Regions from separate parts of the Homo sapiens genome. Here regions 1, 3, 4 and 5 are each linked to region 2. Evidence: fine-mapped expression QTL. A gene starts in region 2. Each other region holds a variant in brackets. All regions are shown on one strand. Distances are from middle to middle.

Region 1 (5,105 bases), 240 kb after region 2:
CAGCCTCAGGAGTTTACTGGGATGCTGTCCACAGTGAAACAGATTATTCATGCCCTGATAAATTCTACCATTACTTTCTTTCCTTCATGCCTTGATTTTCTGCTTATTAGGTTCTCGTTTTTATACATATATTCCATTTTAAGATGATATGGATTCCTAGATTCATGTTCAATAAAAATACACAAATTAGTGGCGCATGGTGGTGTGCACCTGTGGTCCCAGCTGCTGGGAGGCTGAGGTGGGAGCATGGCTTGAGTCAAGGCTGCAATGAGCTAAGATTGTGCTGCTGCACTCCAGCCTGGTGATAAAGGCAGACCTTGTATCAAACAAGAAGATTTATAAAGCTTTTTCCTCCCTTAAAATTCTAAGATTTAAGAATTAATGATACTGAAAGGCCTATGAAAGTATGTAGATATGGCAGAGCCTGCGCTGCTGCTGCTGTTTGTTTGTTTTTTAAGGCATTACCATGGCTTACTGCAGCCTCAACCTCCTGGGCTCCAGTGATCCCACCTGAGCCTCCCAAGTAGCCGGGACTGCAGACATGTGCCACTACACTCGGCTAATTTTTTTTTTTTTTTTTTTTTTTTTTTTTTTGTGTGTGTGGTAGAGACATGGTCTCGCTGTGTTGCCCAGGCTGGTCTCAAACTCCTGGACTCAAGTGATCCTCCCAAAGTGTTGAGATTAGAGGGGTGAGCCACTGAGTCCAGCTCCCTGCTGCTGCAACCTTTTGGGCTCAAGCAATCCTCCCACCTCAGCCTCCAGAGTAGCTGGGACCACAGGCACGCACCACCACACCCCACTAATTTTTGTATTTTTAGTACAGATGGGGTCTTGCCATGTTGCCCAGACTGTTCTTGAACTCCTGGGCTCAAGTGATCCTCCACCTCAGCCTCCCGAAGTGCTAGGATTACAGGCATGAGCCACTGTGCCCGGCCCTTCTGTTGCCGCTTCTGATAACCATGTGAAAATCCTTATAGGGAGAAAGTAGTGATGACTTACCACTTTCTCAAATTAAAGGAAAGGAAATGATCAGCTAAATAATTTTTTACATGTATATTTGAGCACATACAAATGCTTGTCTTCACAGACATTTTGAATTAAGTTTATCTATTGTAAGCAAATGTCAGTCTTGGCCATGCATCTCAGTGTGCTGCTTTTATCTTTACAGCTCTTGTTCAGAAGTGATACCTGAAACATTCTCAAAAAAGGAAGAAAGGCCGGGAGTGGTGGCTCTCCCCTGTAATCCCAGCACTTTGGGAGGATTCTGCTATATATATAAGAAGGCCAAAATAACTTTAAAACGCAGACAGACTTTCAGAACCATTTCATAAAGTACACAAACACACACACACACACACACACACACACACACAGAAGACAGGAATTAAAAACACAACAGCTGGTGCGCTTCATGGTTTTAAAACTCTTAATGGTGCCTGGAAATATAATTATAGCACAGTAATAGATGTTTATAGTATTTATACTGTATATAAATTGAAAATACTGTATTTTAGAAAATTTCTCATTAGAAATATTTACCTCAAGTAATTAGAATTTAAAATTTATAAATATGGAACACTTAATTGTTCGATTCCAATGTGTGAGAAGTTCCTATAGAAGCATTGGCGTGGTGCTTTTATGTCCCAGTTGGTATCAGTGCTCTCTTTTGATCACAGGCCTGTAATCAGCGTTGATATTTTTCACATTAAGACATTTTGAACTTTTTCTTACAGGGTTTCTCTGCTGGGCTGTTTGCATTTTGCCATGATGAAGATGGAAATCCTCTCACTTCAAGATTTGCAGATGGCCTCCCACTTTTTAATTTTAGGTTTTTTTTTTTTTTTTTTTTTTTTTGAGACGGAGTCTCGCTCTGTTGCCCAGGCTGGATGGAGTGCAGTGGCGTGATCTTGGCTCACTGCAAGCTCCGCCTCCCAAGTTCACGCCATTCCCCTGCCTCAGCCTCCCGAGTAGCTGGGACCACAGGTGCCCACCACCATGCCTGGCTTATTTTTTGTATTTTTAGTAGACAGGGTTTCACCGTGTTAGCCAGGATGGTCTCGATCTTCTGACCTCGTGATCCGCCCGCCTCGGCCTCCCAAAGTGCTGGGATTACAGGCATGAGCCACCGCGCCTGGCCAATTATAGGTATTTTTCATTTCTGTTCTTGTTCTCCTCTATTAGAAGGGTGCCAAGACTAGAATCTGAGAATCATAGCATATTAGATGCCATAAATAATAACGTCTTTATGGCAAACCCATCGAAATTGTAGATAATAAAACAAAATAGGGTATAAGAGGCCATTTTATGAAAACATAACTTGTGAGATAGGCAATATTTACATAACGATGTAAGTAAGGAGGAGAGAGATACCCATACACAAGAACCATTCTTAAGCTGATAATTTGCAGTGCTTTCTTGCATTGAGCATATTCCTCAAAAGCATCAAACCTTCTGGCCAGGCACAATGGCTCGTGCCTGTAATCCTAGCACTTTGAGAGGCTGAGGTGGGCTGATGGCTTGAGCCCGTGAGTTCAAGACCAGCCCAGCAATGTGGCAAAACCCTATTTCTACAAAAAAAAAAAAATAGAAAAATTAGCCGAGCATGGTTGCATGTGCCTGTAGTCCCAGCTATTCAGGGTGCTGAGGTCAAAGGATCAGTTGAGCTCAGGAGGTTGAGAATGCAGTGAGCTGTGATCACGCACCTGCAGTTTAGCCTGGGTGACAGAGCAAGACTGTCTCAAGAGAAAAAAAAGAGAAACCTTTCAGTAAAAGTGAAGATTAAATAGAGTAATAAATTCAGTTGTTACAGATAAAAGAATTGGATTTGGCTTTAAGCTGTGTATTTGGGGAAACAATCTGAAGTATGAATGGTAAAGAGAGACTGGAGTGATTAATAAGGTAAAAACTTTATTTTCCGGCTGGCTTTGTTCACTATTTATGTTTAAACATTGCCTTGCCATGGAAACA[G/A]ATAAAGGAATTAAAAACAACCTCTTTAAGGCATGGGTAGATGAACAGATACGTGATAACAAATATAACAAAATGTTAATTACAGAATCTAGGTGAGCTGGTTACTGATTGTAAGAGTGTTTATTAAACAATTCTTTTAATGTTTTGTATGTTTGAGATTTTTATAAAACAATATTGGAGAAGAAAACTCTCTTTATGTTTTCTGTTCTTTTGCTGAGAATGAGAGATTTATAGGGAAAATGGCAGAAGCAGTCTAGGGAATAAGCCAGAAAAAAATGATTTAGGTTACAGGGAAAAATAAAAATTGATATCCATCATAATTTTCTGTAATAGATAAATATGTTACTTTTGTAGTAGTGCTTTTATTTATGCAGGATAGATTTCCCAAACTGGGATTGCTGATTTAAAATCTGTTTACACTATAAATTTTAATAGAAACTGCCATACTACATTTTTTTTAAAAAAAGGTATAGCAAAGCAGATTCCTACCAGGCGTGTATGAATGCTCGTTACCAGTTTATCAGTATTGGATATTATAGATCTTTTTTATTTTTTAAGCCCAATTTGATGGATGAAAGATGGTATCTCATTGTTGTATTTCCAGGACTATAGTGAGGTTTTAGCCATTTGCATTTTCTCTTTGTACACTGCCTATTTATTTTCCTTGTCCTGTCTTTTAGGTTAATTTTCCCTTTCTAATCACATTGTAGGAGTTCTTTATAAGTTAGAGATAATACCCCTTTTCATGTTTATTATAAATATTTCTCCTAGTTGTTTATCGTTTTACTTCATTTATCATGCTTTTGCCACGTATAGAAAAATTCTTAAGTTTTTTATCACTAAATTCATCTATCTTTTTTTTTTTTTTTTTTTTTTTTGAGATGGAGTCTCACTATATTGCCCAGGCTGGTCTTGAACTCCTGGGCTCAGGCAAGCTTCCTGCCTCAGTCTTTCAAGCAGCTGGGACTATGGTCATGTGCCACTGTACCCAGATGTTTTTTTCTTTGTTGCTTAAGGCCTCAAAAGATTATAAAAATATTCTCTTACATTTATTCTAATAAATTATTATTCGGCTTCTCAACATTTGTAGGTTCGATCCATTTGAAACTTTTTTGATTTATGTATTTTGGGATTCTTTTGTAGGGTGCATATATGTTTATAATTGTTATATCTTTATGCTGGATTTACACTTTTTTTGGGGGGGACAGGATCTCACTCTGTTGCCCAGGTTACAGTGCAGTGGCATAATCATGGCTCACTGCAGTGTTGAGCTTCCCAGGCTCAGGTAATCCTCCTACCTCAGCCTCCTGAGTAGCTGGGACTACAAAAGTGTGCCACTATGCTCGTCTAATTTTTTATTTTTATTTTTATTTTATTATTATTTTTTGAGATGGAGTCTCTGTTGCCTAGGCTGGAGTGTAGTGGTGCAGTCTCAGCTCACTGCAACCTCCACTTCCCAGGTTAAGGTGATTCTCCTGCCTCAGCTTCCCAAGTAGCTGGAATTACAGGCATGTGCCACCACGCCTGGCTAATTTTTGTATTTTTAGTAGAGACGAGGTTTCACCATGTTGGCCAGACTGGTCTCATTCTCCTGACCTCAGGTGATCTGCCCACCTCTGCCTGCCAAAGTGCTGGGATTACAGGTGTGAGCCACTGCACCTGGCCTACATAGTATATCTTTTTATCCTTTTACTTTCCACCTATTTGTGTTCTTTAGTCTAAACTATGTCTCTTGTAGATGCATAGTTAGATCATGTTTTTAAATTCAGTTTTCCAATTAACCCTGTTCTGCCTGCTACAGTGGCTGTCAGGCTACTGGTTTTCACCATGATTGTGGGCTGTCGGTTTGCAAGGCTGCCTGAAAGCTGGAGAGAGGGCATGGAAAAGCACCACAAAGTTCCTGTTTCTGCTGAGATTCATCCATTTTTCATGAATAAATGCTTTCTGCATTGCTGTAAATCTTTGATTAATTTCCAAAGTTTAAAAAGTTGATTTCACCAATTTGGGTAGCTTTCTCGTTGCTTTGATAGGAGAGAATTTTGAGAGATTTTTACTCTGTCATTTTTGCTTATATCCTTCTGGAATTTTTGTATGTGGTGAAATAGGGATTTAACCTTTTTTTTTTCTAAATGGATAAT
Region 2 (5,105 bases):
GGTCAGCACTTAACTAATACCTGAGGAAGAGGACTCTCTGCACATCTCTGGCGCTCTCTCTCCCTTTCTGTACTCTGCCCTGTGAACTCTAGATGCATATGCCTCCTCAGATTCCCAGTTCCATCTCCTCAAGTTGAACTCCATGCTTCACTTGAGTTTCCCTTCTCTGTGCTATGACTTGGAAATTCTCTCCATCTGCGGGAAGTTCAAAGGCTCACCTCCATGATTTCCACTGCTCTTCATTGTCTGATGTCAAATGTCTTCAAATGTTTCATATATTTTGTCCTTTTAAATGTTGATTAAGGTGAAGGGCTAAATCTGGTTCCTGTTACTTCATTTTGAGAAGAAGCAAATAGGAAGTAACTTAAAAATACCACTTTTTATCAAATTCTTAGAAAAAGAGTATAACTCATTTTGCAAAGACTTTGGTATGTTTTTGAGCGTATTATTCTGTTACATCTAATAAACAATCTTTGCATTAGTAAGATAACTTTAATTGCTATAGTGTTAAATGTCCTCAAGTTTAGTTTTTCCTTATCTTCTTGTAATCAATTGGAATTAAAAAAAAAACTTCAGAATCTTCTTCTTTATAACAGGAAAAAAAACCCCAGTATTTTTGGCATTTTTAGAAGTACATTCATACACACTGTCATTTAAAACATGGGGGTGGGAGGTGGAGCAAGATGGTGGAATGGAAGGCTCCACTGATCATTCCCCCTTGTAAGAAAAACAAGTTAACAACTATTTACACACAAAAGCACCTTCACAAGAACCAAAAATCAGGTAAGCACTCGCAGTACCTGGTTTTTACTTCATATGACTGAAAGAGGCACTGAAAAGGTAGGAAAGACAGTCTTGAATCACCAATGCCCCTGACCCATCCCCCAGCAGTGGCTCTGTGGTGCGGAGAGAGAATCTATGTTCTTGGGAGACGGCAAGCACAGCAATGATGAGACATTGCATTGAACTCAGTGCTGCCCTGTTATACCAGAAAGCAAAACTGGATCAAACACAGCTGATTCTCACGCATGGAGGGAGTATTTACACCAGCCTTAGCCCGAGGAGAATCACCTATCCCAGCAGTTGGAATTTGAGTTACTGCCAATCTCACCACCTCTGGCTAGAGGGCCCTAAATAAACTCGAAAGGCAGCCTGGGCCACAAGGACGGCTCACGCCTGTAATCCCAGCACTTTGGGAGCCTGAAGTGGGAAAATTGCTTGAGGCCAGGAGTTCCAGACCAGCCTGGTCAACATAGCGAGACCCAGATTCTTTTTTTTTTTTTTCCCCCTTGAGAAGGAATCTCACTCTGTTGTCCAGGCTGGAGTACAGTGGTGCGATCTTGGCTCACTGCAACCTCCACCTCCCGAGTTCAAAGTGATTCTCCTGCCTCACCCTCCTGAGTAGCCGGGACTACAGGCGCCCATCACGACGCCCAGGTAATTTTTGTATTTTTAGTAGAGACGGGATTTTACCACATTGGCCAGGCTGCTCTCGAACTCCTGACCTCTGATCCGCCCGCCTCAGCCTCCCAAAGTGCTGGGATTACAGGCGTGAGCCACCGCGCCCGGCCGCGAGACCCAGATTCTAAAAAACAAAACAAAAAATTAGCCCGGTGTGGTGCTATGCACCTGTATTCCCAGCTACTCAGAAAGTTGAGGTGAGAGGATTGCTTGGCCAGGGGTTTGAGGCTGCAGTGAGCTATGATCACACCATTGTACTGCAGCCTGGCCGACAGAGCAAGACCCCTTCTCAAAAAATAAGTAAGTAGATAAAGTTCAGGGGTGTACAATCACAGGTGTGAATTTGCAGGATGGAGGACATGTAACATCTTTTTAAAAAAAAAAAAAATTAGAAGGACCGTATAAAAAGTTAAAGAAGACTTACTGCTCACCTGACCACCCTTCTCATAGACCCGAAAGTTAGATTTTACTTTCTGATTTTTCACAATTTCTCCTGGATGCTGCGGTCCCGCCCCTCGCAGCATTCTGGATGTTGTAGTCCCTCGCTCCAGGGCATCCACGGTAGGGTAGTTGCGCGCCCCGTGGCAGTCTGGGTAGTGTAGTTCCGTGCCCAGGGGCAGTCCGGCTCGCGTACTTCCGCGTTCCGGCATCGTCGCCTGGTGCGTGGTGAGTGTCCTTTCACAGTTCTGGTGAGCTAGCCCGGAGGTGGTCCCCGCTTTCGCGGGCCTTCCACTGGAAGGAAGGTCGGGAAAGCTGGCATGGGCAGTCCATGTCGTGGCCACATGTTCCTTGGTGTTTTGAGTTTCGGCTGTGGGGTCTGGGCGTGCGTGGTCCACCCCGGAGAGAGGTCTTGGCGGAGGTCCTCTGGTGGGGAGGGGGCGTTGGCGTTGTCGCGTGCTTCTGGCGGGACTTTGGGCCCAGTATGTTGACCTGGAGGGGCCAGTGCAGGCCTGGGACCGACTTCCCGAGCTACTTCGCAGGTGCGTCCCCGGTACTTCGGGGGCCGCTGAGTGGGCTCTGCCTGGGGTACCCAGACAGCATCCTGCCACTAGTATCCCGCCATCCCCTCCCCACCATCGCGCCTCGGAGGTCTCTGGGCCAGCAAATGTGCCTTTGGAGGACATGATATCCTCGGTTGGAGCAAACTTCCCCATTAGTGGGAGGCACGCGGCTTGGGCATCAGTCGGGTTGTTTATTTGTTTATTTATTAAATTTTATTTATTTATTTATTTATTTTTGAAACAGAGTCTCTCTCTGTCGCCCAGGCTGGAGTGCAGTGGCGCAATCTCGGTTCACTGCAATCTCCGCGCCCCACCCCAGCCGCCGGGTTCAAGCCATGCTCCCGCGTCAGCCTCCCGAGCAGCTGGGATTACAGGCACCCGCCACCACGCCCGGCTAATTTTTTGGTTTTTGTTTTGTTTTGTTTTTTTGAGACAGAGTTTCGCTCTTGTCGCCCAGGCTGGAGTGCAGTGGCGTGATTCCCCTGCCTCAGGCTCCCGAGTAGCTGGGACTACAGGCGCACGCCACCACGCCCGGCTAATATTTTGTGTTTTAGTAGAGACGGGGTTTCACCATGTTGGCAAGGCTGGTCTCGAACTCCTGACCTCAAGTAATCCCCCCGCCTCGGCCTCCCAAAGTACTGGGATTACAGGCGTGAGCCACCGTGCCCAACCTCAGTCCAGTTATTAGGGCTCTTGTGGATGGCTGGTGCACTGTGGTGGTGATGGTGCAGCTTGGCCACTAGGACCCGGGTTTGTGGGGGAGGATTGTTTGTGGGTAGACATCCAGACTTGGTCTTGATAGTGGGGGGGGGGACGGCTAGGGCCGTGCGACTCGGGTCAGTAGCCTTGGGGCCTGGGGACCCAAGTTGGTGAGTTGAGAAGGGCTTGCCTGGAGTTAGACATCCCTGGGTTGTGGGTTGCATGGGGGCGTGCTTGTATCCAGATTGTCGGCTTCTGCAGCTGTGTGGCTCCCTCGGACTTGGGGACCCTTCCGGGAGCATGGGTTGCAACAAGCAGAATGGTGCCCATAGGGCCAAGGAACATTTTTCTCAAGCCTCAGGGGGCTGTTGAGTGACTCCTTGAATTCCTGGAGGTGGGGGAAGAAGTTGGGTGGAAGGCATCCAAACCTACATTTTTTTTTTTTTTTTTTTTTTTTTTGAGATGAAGTCTCACTCTGTCGCCCAGGCTGGAGTGCAGTGGAGTGATCTCAGCTCACTGCAACCACGGCCTCCCGGGTTCAAGCAATTCTCTGCCTCAGGCTCCTGAGTAGCTGGTACCACAGGCGCCCGCCACCACGCCCGGCTAATTTTTTTTGTATTTTTAGTAGAGACGGGGTTTGTTTTTTGTTTGTTTGTTTGTTTGTTTGTTTTGAGAGGGAGTCTTGCTCTGTCGCCAGGCTGGAGTGCAGTGGGGTGGCGCGGCGCGATCTCGGCTCACTGCAAACTCCGCCTCCCGGGTTCAAGGTATTCTCCTGCCTCAGCCTCCCGAGTAGCTGGGACTACAGGCACGCGCTACCACACCTGGCTAATTTTTGTGTTTTTACCATGTTGGCTAGGATGGTCTCGATCTCCCGACCTCGTGATCCGCCCGCCTCGGCCTCCCAAAGTGCTGGGATTTCAGGCGTGAGCCACCGCACCCCGCTCGAGACGGGGTTTCACCATGTTGGTCAGGCTGGTCTTGAACTCCTGACCTCCTGATCCACCGGCCTCGGCCTCCCAAAGTGCTGGGATTACAAGCGTGAGCCACTGCGCCCGGCCAAGACCTACTCTTATTTCTAACTTCTCAGTATGAAAACATTGCAAAGATATCCAGAAGTAGTTTTGAAGTTCCATGGATTCATCACTCAGATTCACCACTTACAAATGACTCACCTGTCTTCTTTCCCCCAAATCTGCAACCCCAAGTGTGGATCTCTTTGGAAATTGTCTCTTTCACTAGGGGTCTATACCAGGATTTGGTGTCTTGAGTGACCCTTCATAGAGTGAGTTCAAATCCAGGTCTCTCCCTTTGTCACTGTCACTTTGAGCAAGGTACTTAACCTCGTGGAGCTGCTGTGAATGTAGAACGAAGTAAAACTTGTGTATGACACTTCTCTGATGTAGTTCTTTAAAACAAAATTCAAATGTCATATCATTTCATCTGTAAATGGCAAAAACCACAATTACTTTTGCACCAATCTAATACTTCAGTGTTCAGTATGCATCTCTCATAAATAAGGAATTTAAAGAAAAACAACTTCAGCATTAATGATCATACCCAAGAAAATTAACAGAATTTATTTAGTATCACTTATTCAGGCTGTGTTGTTTCCGTATTTGTCTCAAAAGTTGCCTCACTACAGATATTTGTCCACTACAAAGCTTTCCTGAGTTTTCTCTGGCAGAATTACTTCCATTGTCCTTTTTAGTTTCAGAGCACTTTATTATATGAGGACTCCACGGCTGGCATGGTATATCTCAACTGTCTGACTGTCCCACTGGTTTTGAGATAGTTCTTTGAGGGGACAGGCACCTTGTCTGGCTCCTCATGGGTCACTGACACAGTGCTTGGCACCCACCTGGACTGTGCAACTGACTGACTTTGAGGGTATCAGTTGTCTTTTTTGCCTGGAAAAGGAAGTTCATGGAGGATAGAAACTCAGAT
Region 3 (5,105 bases), 230 kb after region 2:
GGGAGGCTGAGGTGGGTGGATCATGAAGTCAGGAGATTGAGACCACGGTGAAATCCCATCTCTACTAAAAATACAAAAAATTAGCTGGGCGTGGTGGCGGGCGCCTGTAGTCCCAGCTACTCGGGAAGCTGAGGCAGGAGAATGGCGTGAACCTGGAAGGAGGAGCTTGCAGTGAGCCGAGATTGCACCACTGCACTCCAGACTGGGCAACAGAGCGAGACTCCATCTCAAAAAAAAATAAATTAAGAGAAGATGTATTTATAACTTTTACTTTTAGTACAGCTTCTGAATTTAGTTATCAATAGATAGGACAAAATAGATGAGCATCTGCTTCCCTTCCCCCTAAACAATGTATTCTTACTGAAATGTAATATATTTTTATTTATACTTGAAGACACTGTTTTTCAATCTTTTCCTTGTTAGTAGCTCAGATCTTTAAGGACAGAGGATGTATACTGGGGGCAGCTCGTGGTCTTAATCCTGACTGGCACTCTGATATTTTAGATTTCTTTTGTATTTGTGAATAAAACTTCTGCTCCAGTAGGATGAGCCTGTTTACCTTGTGACTCCCTAACTAATCTATTGCTTTATAGATTCAAGTTCAAGTGATTCTCCTACTTCAGCCTCCCAAATTGCTGGGATTACAGGTGCCCGCCACCACGCCTGGCTAATTTTTTGTATTTTAGTAGAGATGAGGTTTCACCATGTTGGCACGGGCTAGTCTCAAACTCTTGACCTTGGTGATAGGCCCATCTCAGCCTCCCAAACTGCTGGGTTTACAGGCAAGAGCCACCACGCCCGGCCTACTATGTCTTAAAAGTGTTTGCATCGTTACCTAGATTCTCTTTCAATGTGAGTTTTTATTGGTTTATTATAGGTTATTTTATTTTTAGGAAGCCATCATTCTTTAGAGGGCAATGACGGAACAGTACCAGCAGAAATTGAAGTACCAGCAGAAGGTTTTTTTTGTTTTGTTTTGTTTTGTTTTTCCAGCAGAAGGTTAAGAGAAAAAGACATTTTATATTTTATTGTATTTGTTGGGTTTTTTTTTTTTTTTTTGAGATGGAGTTTTGCTCTGTCACCAGGCTGGAGTGCAGTGGCACGATCTTGGCTCAGTGCAACCTCCGACTCCCTGGTTCAAGCAATTCTCCTACCTCAGCCTCCCAAGTAGCTGGGACACACGCCACCACACCCAGCTATTTTTTGTATTTTTAGTAGACACCGGGGTTTCACCATATTGGCCTGGATGGGCTCCATCTCCTGACCTCCTGATGCACCCTCCTCGGCCTCCAAAAGTGCTGGGATTACAGGCGTGAACCACCACGCTCGGCCACCTCCTCTTGTACTTGGGAGAAATGCACTGATTCTGGTTGCCACGTGGATTTATTTTGGGAGTGATATTGATCTAACTTTATGGAAATAATACTAGATAGAAAGTTAGCGGATGGATTCTCTATCTAATGAGAGTTTTGGGCAAATCGAATACCAAGTTTCCGAGTCTTACTTTTCCTCTGATGCAAGAAAACTCTGAATTAGCCAGCCTGTGAAAAACTCTCACAGCTCTGGATGTGAGTTTAGGACACTGGATTTCTACCACTCAATTTCTTACTACTTTTCTTGCGCAGGGATCATGGCACAAGTTGCAGTTTCCACCCTGCCCGTTGTAGATGAGGAGTCCGTTGAAGATGAGGAGTCCATTGAAGATGAGGAGTCCTTGGAGAGCAGGATGGTGGTGACATTCTTCATGTCAGCTCTTGAGTCCACGGTGAGACCTTCTGTTCTAACATTCTATGGTCGGGTAGGACTGGGCGGTAGATAAAATTGATTTGTTTTTGTAGAACATATAATTTTATGATTTTTATTTCTAATGAGTATATCTTTTTCTTGAATAGTAGTTATGATCAAACACTTCTAACCAAATGTGCCATGTTATCCAGCCTGGTCTCAAAATTCTGGGCTCCAGCGACCTGCCCGCCTTAGCCTCGAAAAGTGCTGGGATTACAGGTGTAAGCCATTGAACCTGGCCAAATATTTTTCTTTGTATGGCTGAATAATACTCTGTATATGTATATATTACATTTTCTTCATTCACCATTCATCCATCATCCATTCATCCATTCTTTATCAACCCTGATGGGCATTAGGGTTGGTTCTACCTGTTGGCCACTGTGAATAATGCTGCTGTTAAACGGGTGTACAAATACCTGTTTGAGTCCCTGCTCTCAGTTCTTTTGGGTATATACGCTTAAAGGGTGTTGGTGGATCAAATAATTCTATGCTTAGTATTTTTAAGGAGCTGCCAAACCATTTCCCACAGTGGGCTGTACCATTTTACATTCCAAAAAGCCTCCAATTTCTCTATAGCATTACTGACAGTTAATATTTTGTTTATATACTGTATTTTTATACTGTTTGAAATTAATCTGAGGGTTTTTGCTAATACCAAAATATTAGGAAAGTTTTTCCAAAAATCATATTCCTTATTATAAAGACTTTTACATGTTACTTGATGCCCTGTGATCTATTTTCTCAGTAAGAAGAGGAACTTCCTGGCTGGGCGCGGCGGCTCATGCTTGTAATCACAGCATTTTGGGAGGCCGAGGCAGGTGGATCACAAGGTCAGGAGTTCAAGACCAGCCTGTCCAACATAGTGAAACCCAGTCTCTACTAAAAATAATAATAAAAAAAAATTAGCCGGGTGCAGTGGCAGGCACCTCTAATCCCAGCTACTTGGAAGCCTGAGGCAGGGAACTGGTTGAACCCGGGAGGCAGAGGTCGCAGTGAGCCAAGACAAAGACACTGCACCCCAGCCTGTGTGACAGAGTGAGATTTGGTCTCAAAAAAACAAAAAAGAAGAACTTCTCTCCATCCAG[T/C]CTCATTCCACTGCACCAACTCTTTTTTGTGTCGGGTTGTGCAGGGGAGAAAGGGAGCTTGGCACCTCTTTCCTGTGTTGACTTGTGGTAGCCCATCACTGGGCACTGGGTTGTACAGCGCCTTGTCTCCTCTTTTTTGTTTTTGTTTTTTTGAGACCGAGTCTCACTCTGTTGCCCAGGCTGGAGTGTAGTGGTGCGATCTCAGCTCACTGCAACCTCAGCCCCCCCGGGTTCAAGCGATTCTCCTGCCTCAGCCTCCCAAGTAGCTGGGGCTACAGGCATGTGCCACCACACCTGGCTAATTTTTTATTTTTAGTAGAGATGGGGTATCGCCATGTTGGCCAGGCTGGTCTTGAACTCCTGACCTCAGGTGATCCGCCCACTTTGGCCTTCTGAAGTGCTGGGATTATAGGCATGAGCCACCGTTCCTGGCCGCCTCCTCTTTTACTTGGGAGAAATGCACAGATTCTGGGTGCCATGTGCATTTATTTTGGGAATGATATTGATCTAACTCATGGAAATAATACTAGATAAGAAAGTTAGCGGATGGATTCTCTAATCTGATGAGAGTTTTGGGCAAATGGAATTCCTAGTTTCTGAGTCGTATTTTTCCTCTGATGCAAGAAACCTGTGAATTAGCCAGCTAGTGAAAAACTCTCACAGTTCTGGATGTGAATTTAGGACACTGGATTTCTATCACTCACTTTCTTACTACTTTTCTCACGCAGGGATCATGGCACAAGTTGCAGTTTCCACCCTTTCCTTTGAAGATGAGGAGTCTGTTGAAGATGAGGAGTCCTTGGAGAGCAGGATGGTGCTGACATTCCTAACGTCAGCTCTTGAGTCCATGGTCAGACCTTCTGTTCTAACATTCTGTAGTTTGGTAGGATTGGGAGGTAGATAAGGTTGATTTGTTTTTGTAGAATGTATAATTTTATGATTTTTATTTCTAATGAGTAGATCTTTTTCTTGAATAGTAGTTATGGTCAAACACCTCTAACCAAATGTGCATGTGGAGTTTCTACACCGATTTTCGGACAATCTGGATACCAACTGGGTATCCCACAATTCCATCCTGACACTCCCCGGAGTTAGTGCAGACCCCGCAGGATGGGGGCTCAGTCCCAGGAGTCTACCCTCACTCCACATGCCAATTGCAAGTCCTGGGTTGTTAACATGTACTTTTGACAAACCAGTTAGGAAACAGGGTCTCATAACCCCCTTCGTGGGTGGAATCATTTGCTAGGACAGCTTGCGGAACTCAAAAAACAAGTTATTTTCTTTTATTCTCAGATACAGGGTCTCACTCTGTTGCCAGGCTGCAATGCAGTGGTGTGATCAAAGCTCACTGTAGCCTCGAGCTCCTGGGCTTAAGTGATCCTCCCGCCTCACCCTCCCAAATAGCTGAGACTACAGGCCTGCTCCACCACATCTGGCTATGTTCTTTTATTTTTTGTAGAGATGGGGTCTTGTTATGTTGCCCAGGCTGGTCTCAAATTTCTGGGCTCACATAATTCTCCCACCTCAACCTCCCAAAGTGCTAGGATTATGGGCATGAGCCACTGTGTCTCACCAATTTACGTTCTATTACTGGTTCACTGTAAAGGATATATGTTAGAAACAGCCAGTGAAAGAGATGTACATGTTGGGCACAGTGGCTCATGCCTGTAATCTCAGCAGTTTGGGAGACTGAGGCGGGAGCATCACTTAAGCTCAGGAGATTAAGACCAGCCTGGGTAACGTGGTGAAATCCCATCTCTGCAAAAAAATTTTTCTAAACGTTAGCCAGGTGCAGTGACATGTGCGTGTAGTTCTAGCTACTCAGAAGGCTGAGAGGATGGCTTGAGCTAGGGAGGCATAGGTGGCAGTGAGCCACGATTGTGCCACAGCACTCTAGCCTGGGAGACAGAGCCAGACCCTGTCTCAAAAAAAAAAAAAAAAAAAAAAAAAAAAAAAATGCACAGAGCAAGGTATGTGGGGGGAAGGGCACAGAACTTCCATGCTCTCTGTTGTGCATGTTACCCTCCTCATATGCCCCTTGTGTTCAACAACCCAGGCATTCTCCAAACCCTGTTGTTGAGGGTGTTGATGAAGGCTTCGTTATGCAGGCATGATTGTTGAAATCATTGACCATTGGTGATTAAGTCAATCTTCGGCCACCATTTCTTCTGGAGCTCAGTGGGTGAGACTCACAGTTCCAAGCCTCTGGCAACCAGCCCTCCTCCTGAAGCT
Region 4 (5,105 bases), 39 kb after region 2:
CCTGGGACTGGAATGGCTGGGTTGTATGATGATGGATACAATATATATTCAACTTTTGAAGAAACTCACAAACTGCTTTCCAAAGTGGCCGCACCATTTCACATTCCCACAGCAGTGTATGAGAGCTCCAGGTGTTCCATATTTGTCAAAACTTGGCTTGGTTATTAATTTCAGACATTCTTATAGCTGTGTAGTGAGTGGCATCTTACCGTGGTTTTAACATTTTCTTAATGACTGATGATGTTGAGTATCTTCATGTGCTTATTTGCTATCTTATATCTTCTTTAGTGAAGTACGTTTTCACATCTTTTGCCCATTTAAAAATGTGGTTTCTTATTTTTGTATTATTGAGTTTGAGAGTTCTTCACATATTCTATGTAGAAGTCCATTATCAGATATATGATTTACAAACATTTTTTCTGTGGTTTACTTTCTATAATCTTAATAGTGCCTTTCAAAGAGAAATTTTAATTTGGATGAAGTCCAGTTTTCAATCTTTTCTCTTATGAATTGCAGTTTTGGTAGTGTATTTAAGAAATTTTAGTCTAAAGTAAGGTCAAAAAGATTCTCATTTTTTTCTTTTAGTAATTTTACAATTTTTAATTACATTTAGGTCTATAAGCCTATTTTGAGTAAATATACTTGATAAAAGATCTGAATTTATGTACTTTTTTAGGGGAGGAAGGGCATACAAATATCCAATTTTTCCAGCACCATTTATTGAAAACACTACCCTTTTTTAACTGAATTTCCTATGTATCTTTGTGGAAGATCAGTTGACCATATGTGATAGGTCTATACCTGGACTCTATGTTTTTTCTACTCCTCTGTTAGTGTCTCTATGCCAATACCACAGTTTTGATTACTGTAGCTTTATTAGGTCTTGAACTCACTGTAAATCCTCCATCTTCTTTGGGAAGCTTAGGCAGGCGGATCACAAGGTCAGGAGTTCGAGACTAGTCTGGCCAACATAGTGAAACCCCATCTCTACTAAAAATACAAAAAAAACTAGCCGAGTGTGGTGGTGCGCACCTGTAATCACAGCTACTCGGGAGGCTGAGGCAGGAGGATCGCGTGAACTCGGGAGGCGGAGGTTGCAGTGAGCCGAGATCACACTATTGCACTCCAGCCCAGGCAACAGTGCGAGACTCCATCTCAAAATAAAATAAAATAAAATAAAAAATCCTCCATCTTTGCTTTTTTTTGCAAGTTCTTTTCGTTATTCTTTGTTTTTTCATATGAATTTTAGAATCAGCTTGTCAGTTTTTAACAAAAATGCCTGCTGAGATTTTGATTGGGATCGAGTTGAATCTGTATCAATTTGTGGAGAACTTACACATAAATAATACTGTGTCTTACAGTACGTGAACACAGTATAGCTCTCCATTTACATAAGACTTCTTTCATTTTTGTCGGCATTGTTTTGTCATTTCTGGTATACAGGCCTTACATATCTCTTGTCAGATTTGCCCCTAAGTATTTCATATTTTGATGCTATTTTTAAGTGTCAATTTTCAGTTGTTTATTGATGGTATGTAGAAATAAAATGGATTTATGTATAGTGATTTTGTATGCTGTAATCTTGCAAAACTCACATCTTTTTCCACTGGAATATTTTAATATGAAGGACCTTCTCTGTATTCCAGATGGAATGTGAATGGCAATCCCTAAAGCTGCTGAAGTTCCCTCTTGCAGATATGATCTTACTGACTCTAATCAATGATACAAAGAGTTTTTCTTAGGAATAGTATGGTCAAAAATAAGAAATACGTATTTTGTGATTAAAAATAGTTAACAAATAGAATAACATATAAATCAGTATTGTATTTATAATCGTCTGCCTTGAACCAAGGGTCTTCTGTTAAGTAGTTTAATTCCATTAAATTGTTCACTTCTGTTCTGATAGGGCACTTGAAACCCTGATTCAGTTTCTTGCTATGGGTTGCTACTTGCCAGGTACATTTCTGATCAATGCTCTTAAAAATTTGTTCCAGGGGCTGGGCGCGGTGGCTCACGCCTGTAATCCCAGCACTTTGGGAGGCCAAGGCAGGCGAATCACTTGAGGTCAGGAGTTTGAGACCAGCCTGGCCAACATGGTGAGACCCTGTCACTACTAAAAATACAAAAAATTAGCCAGGCGTAGTAGGTGCGCCTGTAATCCCAGCTACTCAGGAGGCTGAGGTGGGAGAATTGCTTGAACCCAGGAGGTGGAGGTTGCAGTGGGCTGAGATAGTGCCACTGTACTCCAGCCTAGGCGACAGTGCGAGACTCCTTTAAAAAAAAAAAAAAAAATTTGTTCAAGGAGACTCAATTTCTAATCTGAGTTAAAAAGCAGGAGTCTTTAAACAAAAGTAAGATAAAAAAGATAAACTAGCCATGAATAAGAAAATGCCTTATTTTTCTCTTACCAAATGCTTTGCTTATTCACTACAGCAAACAATTTCAGAGATAATGAAAGCAGACTTCTCTATTGAGGGCTGTCCCATAATGACTCATAAGAACTTAGTCCTGCCGAGCGCAGTGGCTCATGCCTATAACCCCAGCACTTTGGGAGGCCGAGGCAGGCGGATCACCTAAGGTCAGGAGTTCGAGACCAGCCTGGCCAACATGGTGAAACCCCGTCTCTCACCTAAGGTCAGGAGTTCAAGACCAGCCTGGCCAACATGGTGAAACCCGATCTCTACTAAAAATACAAAACTTAGCCGGGCATGGTGGTGCACGCCTGTAATCCCAGCTGCTCAGGAGGCTGAGACAGGAGAATTGCTTGAACCAGAGGTTGCAGTCAGCCAAGATCACGCCACTGCACTCCAGCCTGGGCAACAGAGCGAGACTCTGTCTCAAAAAAAAAAAAAAAAAAAAGAACTTAGTCAATAATTACCTAGGAGTTACGGTATCAACTTACGGAAGCTGAAAGCACTGCCAATTTCCAGAGCCTTTAATTTATACCATCATGGGAATTAGT[G/A]TTATCTCCAATTGGCAGCCTATTTAAACCTAGAAACAAAATTTTTTGAAAAAGTCAATTTGTATAGTTTTAACAGTTTTTGTGCATGGATAAGAATATGCTTAAGCCGAAATATGTATAATCCCTGAAACATCTTTATGCTAATGAGAAGTCATCTATTATTAACTTTCAAACGCTGAGCTTCTCCTTAATTCACCAGATTTTTTTAAAAATCCTGGATTATTGAGCAAAACAGTGTACGTAGTGTTGTGCAATGCTATTCGGGGAATATACTTGGCTGCAGTCTTCCCAGAGGCTAGAGGACAGCACCTTCATTTGCCCGGAGGGCAGCATCAGGGATTCCTCTTCTTCAAGAGGACTTAAGGGTGTCCATACAGTTCAGGAGACAACTCACATCAGGCTGATATGGAAGCTCCCTGGCCTAAAGCCTATTCCACACAGGAGCCAGTATCTCTTGCTACAGCTTATCTGATTCGTGGGTGCCCCTTACTTGAGTCACCACAGTCAAGGAAGCCCAAAGCATGGCTCCCCTTCAGATGCTAAGATCTTATTTATAGCACCTTCAAGATCATAATCAGTCTGTTTCTTAACTGCAGCTCAGACACCAAGTTCTTGGCTCTTGCATAAACAGCAGGCCGAACAAATGTTTCTCAGGCAAGGTTTAATAGGCTTGAGCTGGAGCAAAAGCAAGGGAGCGGCGCCCAAGAAAGGAAGATAAATGTGTAACTCTACTTGCAGCAATTTATAGAGCTGAAGCTGCCTGTGATGCTTTTTTGAACCTTTTAGTTTGGCTGATAGGACTAGTTTGTAGTGTGGGTTTTCTGTGCTGCAATAGAGCATGTAATGTGCCCTTGTGGGTTGGAAGATAAGTCTTTGTTGTGAACATCTGAAGAAAACTGCTGGGCAGGTATTACAATCCATGGTCACCTGTGGTGATTCTGACCAAGACTTTCTCTCTAGCAGAGCCTAGAACAGAATTCCAGCCAAGTTTTCCCCACCTGGTGGCCTTTTCTAGCTCGCAGCTCCTCAGACAATATGCGCTAAGTGGCCATCCCACACAGATCTTCCCAAGCTCATCTGCAGGAGGTGACTTCCAACTAGAAGCTCCAAGATGCTCTAGTGAAAAAGGAGAAAGTGGAGAGACAGAAGGCCCCGACAGCTCATTAAGAAAGAGGCCAAGCAGAATTTCTAGGACATTCTTCAGCCCACATCAAGGTGACCCAGTAGAATGGGTAGAAGGGAACAGAGAAGGAGGAACAGACCTTCGCCTGGCCCAAAGGATGAGTCTTGGGGGGTCAGACACAATGTTGAAGGGAGCAGACACTTCAGAATCTGGAGCAGTCATACGTGGAAACTATAGACTGGGACTTAGCAAAAAGTCAAGCCTGTTCAGCCACCAGAAGCATCATGTGTGCCCTGAATGCGGGAGAGGCTTTTGCCAGAGATCAGACCTTATCAAGCACCAGAGGACACACACCGGGGAGAAGCCATACCTGTGTCCTGAGTGTGGGCGTCGGTTTAGCCAGAAGGCCTCCCTCTCCATACACCAGAGGAAGCACTCGGGGGAGAAGCCGTATGTGTGCAGGGAATGTGGGCGACACTTCAGGTATACATCCTCTCTCACTAATCACAAGAGGATTCACTCCGGGGAGAGGCCCTTTGTATGTCAGGAGTGTGGGCGAGGCTTTCGCCAGAAGATAGCCCTCCTTCTACACCAGAGGACGCACTTGGAGGAGAAGCCCTTCGTGTGTCCTGAGTGTGGGAGAGGCTTTTGCCAGAAGGCATCACTCCTCCAGCACCAGAGCTCACACACAGGGGAGAGGCCCTTCCTGTGCCTTGAGTGTGGGCGTAGCTTCAGGCAGCAGTCACTCCTCCTTAGTCACCAGGTCACACACTCAGGAGAGAAGCCTTATGTCTGTGCTGAGTGTGGGCACAGCTTTCGCCAAAAGGTCACTCTCATCAGGCACCAGAGGACACACACAGGGGAGAAGCCTTACCTGTGCCCCCAGTGTGGGCGGGGTTTTAGCCAGAAGGTCACCCTCATTGGACACCAGAGGACACACACAGGGGAGAAGCCCTACCTGTGCCCTGATTGTGGGCGTGGCTTTGGTCAGAAGGTCACCCTCATCAGACACCAGAGGAC
Region 5 (5,105 bases), 110 kb before region 2:
GCTAATTTTTGTATTTTTAGTAGAAACGGGGTTTCACCAGGCTGGCCAGGCTGGTCCCGAACTCCTGACCTCAGGTGATCCACCCTCCTAGGCCTCCCAAAGTGCTAGGATTACAGGCATGAGCCGCCGCGCCCAGCCACACCCATACATTTTACCATGAACCTTCACATCTATAGGACAACCTCATCTGTGAGGCAACATAGCTTGCCAGGAAAAGAGAAAGAGTCATATGGAACATGACACATTGCAGCCTTGGAAAGGTTATCCTACCTCTCTGTGCCTCAGTTTCTCTGACTTAATGAAAGCTAATTTCTTGAGCCTCTTAGGGCTGTGGAGATGAAATAAGAGATAACACATGACAATGCCGGCCCAACATGGGTGCTCAACTAGTGCCCCTTGTTTGGACTGGCTGATCCTCCAGGAACCCCCAGGCAGGCAGACGAGACAGGCACTGAGGGCTGGGAAAGGCCAAGTCAGAGTCCACAGACTGGCGATGCCCAGGATCAGAGAGGAAGGGCTGAGAGATGGCCTCGTTCAACACACGTGAATGAAGAAGGAACAGGAGAGGCCAGGGGCTACCTGCCTCAGATGGTCCGGCTGTGGTGGGGTGGTGGCCCTATCCCCCAACTCCTCCCTGCTAACCTGAGGCCAGGATGCTGTGCCTAGGAGTAGCTGGATTTTAGTAGGTTCATCTTCTCAATTACACAGGACCACAGACTCTTTCAGTAAAGAGCCAGAAAGTAAATACTTAAGACTTTGCAGGTCATGCGTGGACTCTGTTGCATATCTTTGTTTTTGTTGTTTTGTTTTTCGCTTTTTGTTTTATATAATGCCTAAAAAATGGCCAGGCACGGTGGCTCATGCCTGTAATCCCAGCACTTTGGGAGGCCGAGGTGGGCAGATCACCTGAGGTCAGGAGTTCAAGACCAGCCTGACCAACATGGCGAAGCCTCGTCTCTCCTAAAAATACAAAATTAGCCGGGCATGGTGGCACATGCCTGTAATCCCAGATACTCGGGAGGCTGAGGCAGAAGAATTGCTTGAACCCAGGAGGCAGAGGTTGCTGTGAGCCGAGATCACGCCATTGCACCCCAGCCTGGACAACAAGAATGAAACTCCGTCTCAAAAAAAAAAAAGAGTCTAAAAAATCTAAGAACCATCTTGGCACACGAGCTGCAAAGAAAGGAGCTGCAGCTGGATTTGGCCGCCTGGCTCCCCGACACGTCCTGGCACCCCCGAAGCACTCAAGGAGCTTCCTTGCTTCATCCCCTGGAGGAAAGCCGGGCCTGGCCATGGCGCTATTGTGACGTGGCTCCCAGAGCAGTTTCAGGCCTGTTCTAGCATCTGGCCGGGGCGGCAGCCTGAGAGCCATGGAGCCGCTGGGTGCAACACTGTCCTGCCCGTGTGCATGGAGCTGCTTACGTTGCCTGCACTGCTGCTGTCCTGTTCCCACAACTTCTGCAAACAGTGCCTGGAGCTGATCTTGGTTTACCAGAATTGCACCCAGGTCCAGGGATGGTTCTGTTGTCCAGTGTGTAGGAAAGTAAGAGGAAAATCAGGGCCCTTTGACTCCACGAGGGAGCAGACTTCTTTCTGGTCTGCACTCTTCGAACTCTAGCCCATGAGAAAACTGGGGACTTTGGGCCCCAAAATGAAGACCAGCAAGGCAGACCCACATCTCTGAAGGGTTGTGAGAGGGCATCGGCAGGGGAGGACAGGCTTTTCCTTTAGGCTTAGAAGATCCATCAGGACCCACAGGGAGGAGCTACAGGAGGATGTACATTGTGGCCTAAGGTTGGAGAGAACTTTCTTACAGAACAGCTTGTTCAGTATGCGCTGGGGTAGGTAGGGCCATTTATTAGCACTTGCTAGGTGCCTTGTCACTGTGGTGGAAGACCAGAGAAGCAGAGCTGATGAGGGTTCAGATTTCACCCTTTAAGGAGAGATAGACCACACATATAATGGGAGACCCCACAGTGCAGGTCTGCAATGCACCGCAGGGGACAGGAAGGCCACAGGGGAGGCACTGCTGCATAGAATCTACGGTAGGACTGATGCTGATGGAGAGGGCAATCTAGGAAGAGACAGTGGCAGATAGCAAGGCCCGAGAAAGAGAGCCTAAGAAAGGAGGTGCTTAAGGGCCTGGCCCAGAGATCACGGAGGCTTGAGCATAAGGTGCTGTGGGAGACACCTGGGGCTTTAGGGTACCCACCCGAAGGGTAAGTAGGACATATTCCAGGAGGCCCTACACATCAAGCAAAGGGCTTTGCATTTTATCCTGTAAGCAGAGGGGAGCTAGTGACATATTTTAACCTGGAAAGGGTCATCATAACGTTGACTTCTGAAAGCACAATGTCACATGCTCTCATGGAAATTCTTTGTGTAACATTTCGCCAGCTGGACTGTAGGAATCATGACTGGTGTTGCCCCAGACCCTTTGGATATTTGTGGAAGGAAGGAAG[G/A]AAATCTAGAAGGAATAGGTTGCAGGCAGAGGAATCCTGAGGGGCTGGAGGGCAGGGAGAGAGGCAGGCGGTCATCACCTGGCTTTTGGGGGAGGGGTGCCATGAGGTGACTGCAGAGACAGGGGCAACAGCTCAGAAGCACCACACATTTGGATGGATCATTTTATTTGTCAACCTGGAATTTTCACTTATTTGTATGTTTATTTTTAAATCATATCAAAGAAATAGTGTAGAAAAGAGTTTATAATGAAAAGCAATGCTGCCATCCCACCCCTAGTCCCACTCTCCAGAGGCAATCTCTCCTAACTTTTTCTACCTCATTCTTCCTGCAGTCACCACCATAGCTCTGAGTATGTGTTTATCTCACCATTCTTCGCCCACTGGTTTTAGACGCTACTGGCATTTGCTGCCTCTCCGACGACTGAGCTTCTCGTGCACAGCTCCTTCCTCATCTTCCCTCCCTGAGCAGGTCCATGGCAACCTTAATTTCTCTATTGTGATTTTAAGTTAATGCACCAAGCAACTAGAGATAATGGCACCCTCTGAAGCTCCACTTTGTAAGGGAGGCGGTCCTTGTCCCCTGCCCTGCTCTCTGGCTTTCCTGCTCCCAGGTGACAGACACACAGGCTCCTCAGACTCCGGGAGCCCATAAGGAACCTGCAAAGGGCACAGGAAGTACACTGGAGGTCTTCGCAGAAATTTTGTTGAGCCTGGATTTGGGGGTTGGGCAGGTCATGCAGGTGCGGTCCCAAGAGGGTTGAGCAGAAGTAGCTGTGCGTCCTCACCCTGACAGAACACAGAGGATTGAGCAGAGGGACAGTGCTGGCTGGGATACTGGCTGCACCTGCGGCCTAGAAGGGCGGGAAAGAGCTTTGGACTGATTGAGTAGAGGCAGAGATTTGAGAAGGGAGGGAGGAAGAGGACTGGTGTGCCCAGCTCTGAAGGCAGACCCTCTGGGACATTTTCAGTGCTCTTCAGTTTTCTTTGAAAAGAAAAAAGGCCCAGATCCCAGGCGCAGGCCCATTCATCTTCCCTGGAGTATTCATTCTGCTGAATCCTGGAAAAGATTTATACACCAGCAGCATTCTGTAGTGAGTGTTATGCTGGAATTCAAACCCAGGTCCACCTCTTTTCAAGACAAGTTCTTTTCTCATTTCCGAGGCACCAGGGAAAAGAAATCACTTCCCTGCACTGGTTCTGTTGGGGCCAAAAGATCAGGAGATGATTGCCATTGAAAAGGTAGTTTGTTACTCAGAGTTCCCAAGAGGAGGGAGCCCCCCACCACGCAGGGCCACATGGGGAAGCCCCAGGGTTGATCAGGAAGCAAAAGGAATGGCAGGGAACTGTGGTCCAGGGCCTTTGCTGTGGTTTCCACAGGAAGAAATGGGGAGGGGAGGGTAAGCAGGCTAAAGACTGGCTAGTGTGAATCATTTCAGTGGGCTCTGAGGCATAGGAGCTGTGCCTTGCTCTCTGGTAATTAGGGCAGATGGACAGTGGCCTGCGTGTGAGAAGGTTGGATGGTTGGGGGTGTGGGATCTGGGTTGGTTGGTTTGCATCTGAAAAGCACAGTCCCAGGTGAGATCCTTTACTCTGTCTAGGAGTTGGCTAACCCTGGGAGGGCAGGCCCCAGGTGCCAAAACATCAAAATACAGAAAATAAAAGACACAGTGAGACCTGGTCCTTCGTTCTCTGCACTCCACTGGCATATCCAACTGTGCAGTCATTGACTGTGAGCATTTCTTACCACTGGACTGAGTTTCTGTGGAAGACAGAGTAGGTCCTAACCAAAACTCAATGGACTGAAGGAACGCAGATTCCAGTTTCACCTGATGGAGTTTGTAGTGACTTTCACAACAGATACTGGTAACAGGCCCACAGCAGGGCCAGCCTGGAAGTGTCATCGTGCAGGGTTCTCACAGTCACTTCCCTCTCCAGGTCTTGTCAGCCTTCCCCAGGGTGGAATGTGAGTTCTTTCCTCCTCCCAGATGGTGTTTTAGTGACCAGGAAGGGACATATTTCAACCTCCCCCAAAGATGAGGTGGCCTTTGGCCTCAGGAATTTGCCACAAACTCATGTGATCTCTGTGTTTTAGGACATTTATTTGAAGGGCAGGGGAACAAATGGATTGCAGGGAAACATCCTGGCTGAAAATATCCTGGAAAAGCTTAAGGAAGTACTTGAGACACTTCACACCGGGGAGCAAAACCAGCTCGCTCAGATGTGTGAAAAGCGTGGAAAAATCATGAATCTGGTATTAAATTATACTTTTTAAAATTTTCTTTTTGCCTAGCTGCCCAATCTGTCAAATTACTCGGTAAGCCTACATAGTTGAAACCAGATGTTTACTCAGGAGTATAGTAGAGGATTACTTTCCAAATCCACAGCCCAGTGCTAACTTTATTCTTGATTTGTAACGTGGAGCCCAGGGACGAATGTGTGTGTGTGTGCGGGGGGTGAGGGGGTGCATGTGTAGGGGGGGTGCATGTGTGTGTGCGCGCACACACACACATGCAGTATTCAGCCCTGCAGCCCACAGTGGGGTTGAAGGGGTCACATGTAGAAGGGCTCAAACAGGTACAGTGATTTATGAGATTTATGAGACTCCAGCCACCCTCAGTCATCTCGGAGAGAGGGTGCGGTAGG

The links. PIP is the estimated chance that this variant, and not a neighbour inherited with it, causes the effect.
Region 1: its variant is fine-mapped to the expression of ZNF169 in whole blood (TOPMed, PIP above 0.99).
Region 3: its variant is fine-mapped to the expression of ZNF169 in cerebellar hemisphere (GTEx, PIP 0.99).
Region 4: its variant is fine-mapped to the expression of ZNF169 in whole blood (INTERVAL, PIP above 0.99).
Region 5: its variant is fine-mapped to the expression of ZNF169 in cerebellum (GTEx, PIP above 0.99).

Annotation. Positions count from the first base shown.
Region 1 is chr9:94,496,323-94,501,427 of GRCh38, forward strand. The region is part of intron 1 of LOC107987100 (a long non-coding RNA gene); the gene reads right to left. It also overlaps the pseudogene LOC100421692. Among named protein-coding and RNA genes, the nearest start is that of PCAT7, 56 kb to the right of the region's middle. The variant G/A (reference allele first, on the strand shown) is at 2,968.
Region 2 is chr9:94,257,219-94,262,323 of GRCh38, forward strand. It overlaps ZNF169 (zinc finger protein 169), which reads left to right and starts at 2,080. Exons shown (of 5, transcript NM_194320.4): 1 at 2,080-2,127. It overlaps LINC02603 (long intergenic non-protein coding RNA 2603), which reads right to left and starts at 2,093. Exons shown (of 3, transcript NR_160773.1): 1 at 1,893-2,093. RefSeq lists enhancers at 1,599-2,244, 2,083-2,402, 2,245-2,891, 2,433-2,562, 2,892-3,537.
Region 3 is chr9:94,484,075-94,489,179 of GRCh38, forward strand. LOC107987100 (a long non-coding RNA gene) reads right to left here. Exons shown (of 3, transcript XR_001746844.2): 2 at 3,578-3,746; 3 at 1,368-1,804. Among named protein-coding and RNA genes, the nearest start is that of PCAT7, 68 kb to the right of the region's middle. RefSeq lists an enhancer at 4,004-4,173. The variant T/C (reference allele first, on the strand shown) is at 2,874.
Region 4 is chr9:94,295,890-94,300,994 of GRCh38, forward strand. ZNF169 (zinc finger protein 169) reads left to right here. Exons shown (of 5, transcript NM_194320.4): 5 at 3,926-5,105. Among named protein-coding and RNA genes, the nearest start is that of NUTM2F, 30 kb to the right of the region's middle. The variant G/A (reference allele first, on the strand shown) is at 2,963.
Region 5 is chr9:94,146,632-94,151,736 of GRCh38, forward strand. It overlaps the pseudogene LOC107987099. Among named protein-coding and RNA genes, the nearest start is that of MIRLET7A1HG, 17 kb to the right of the region's middle. The variant G/A (reference allele first, on the strand shown) is at 2,463.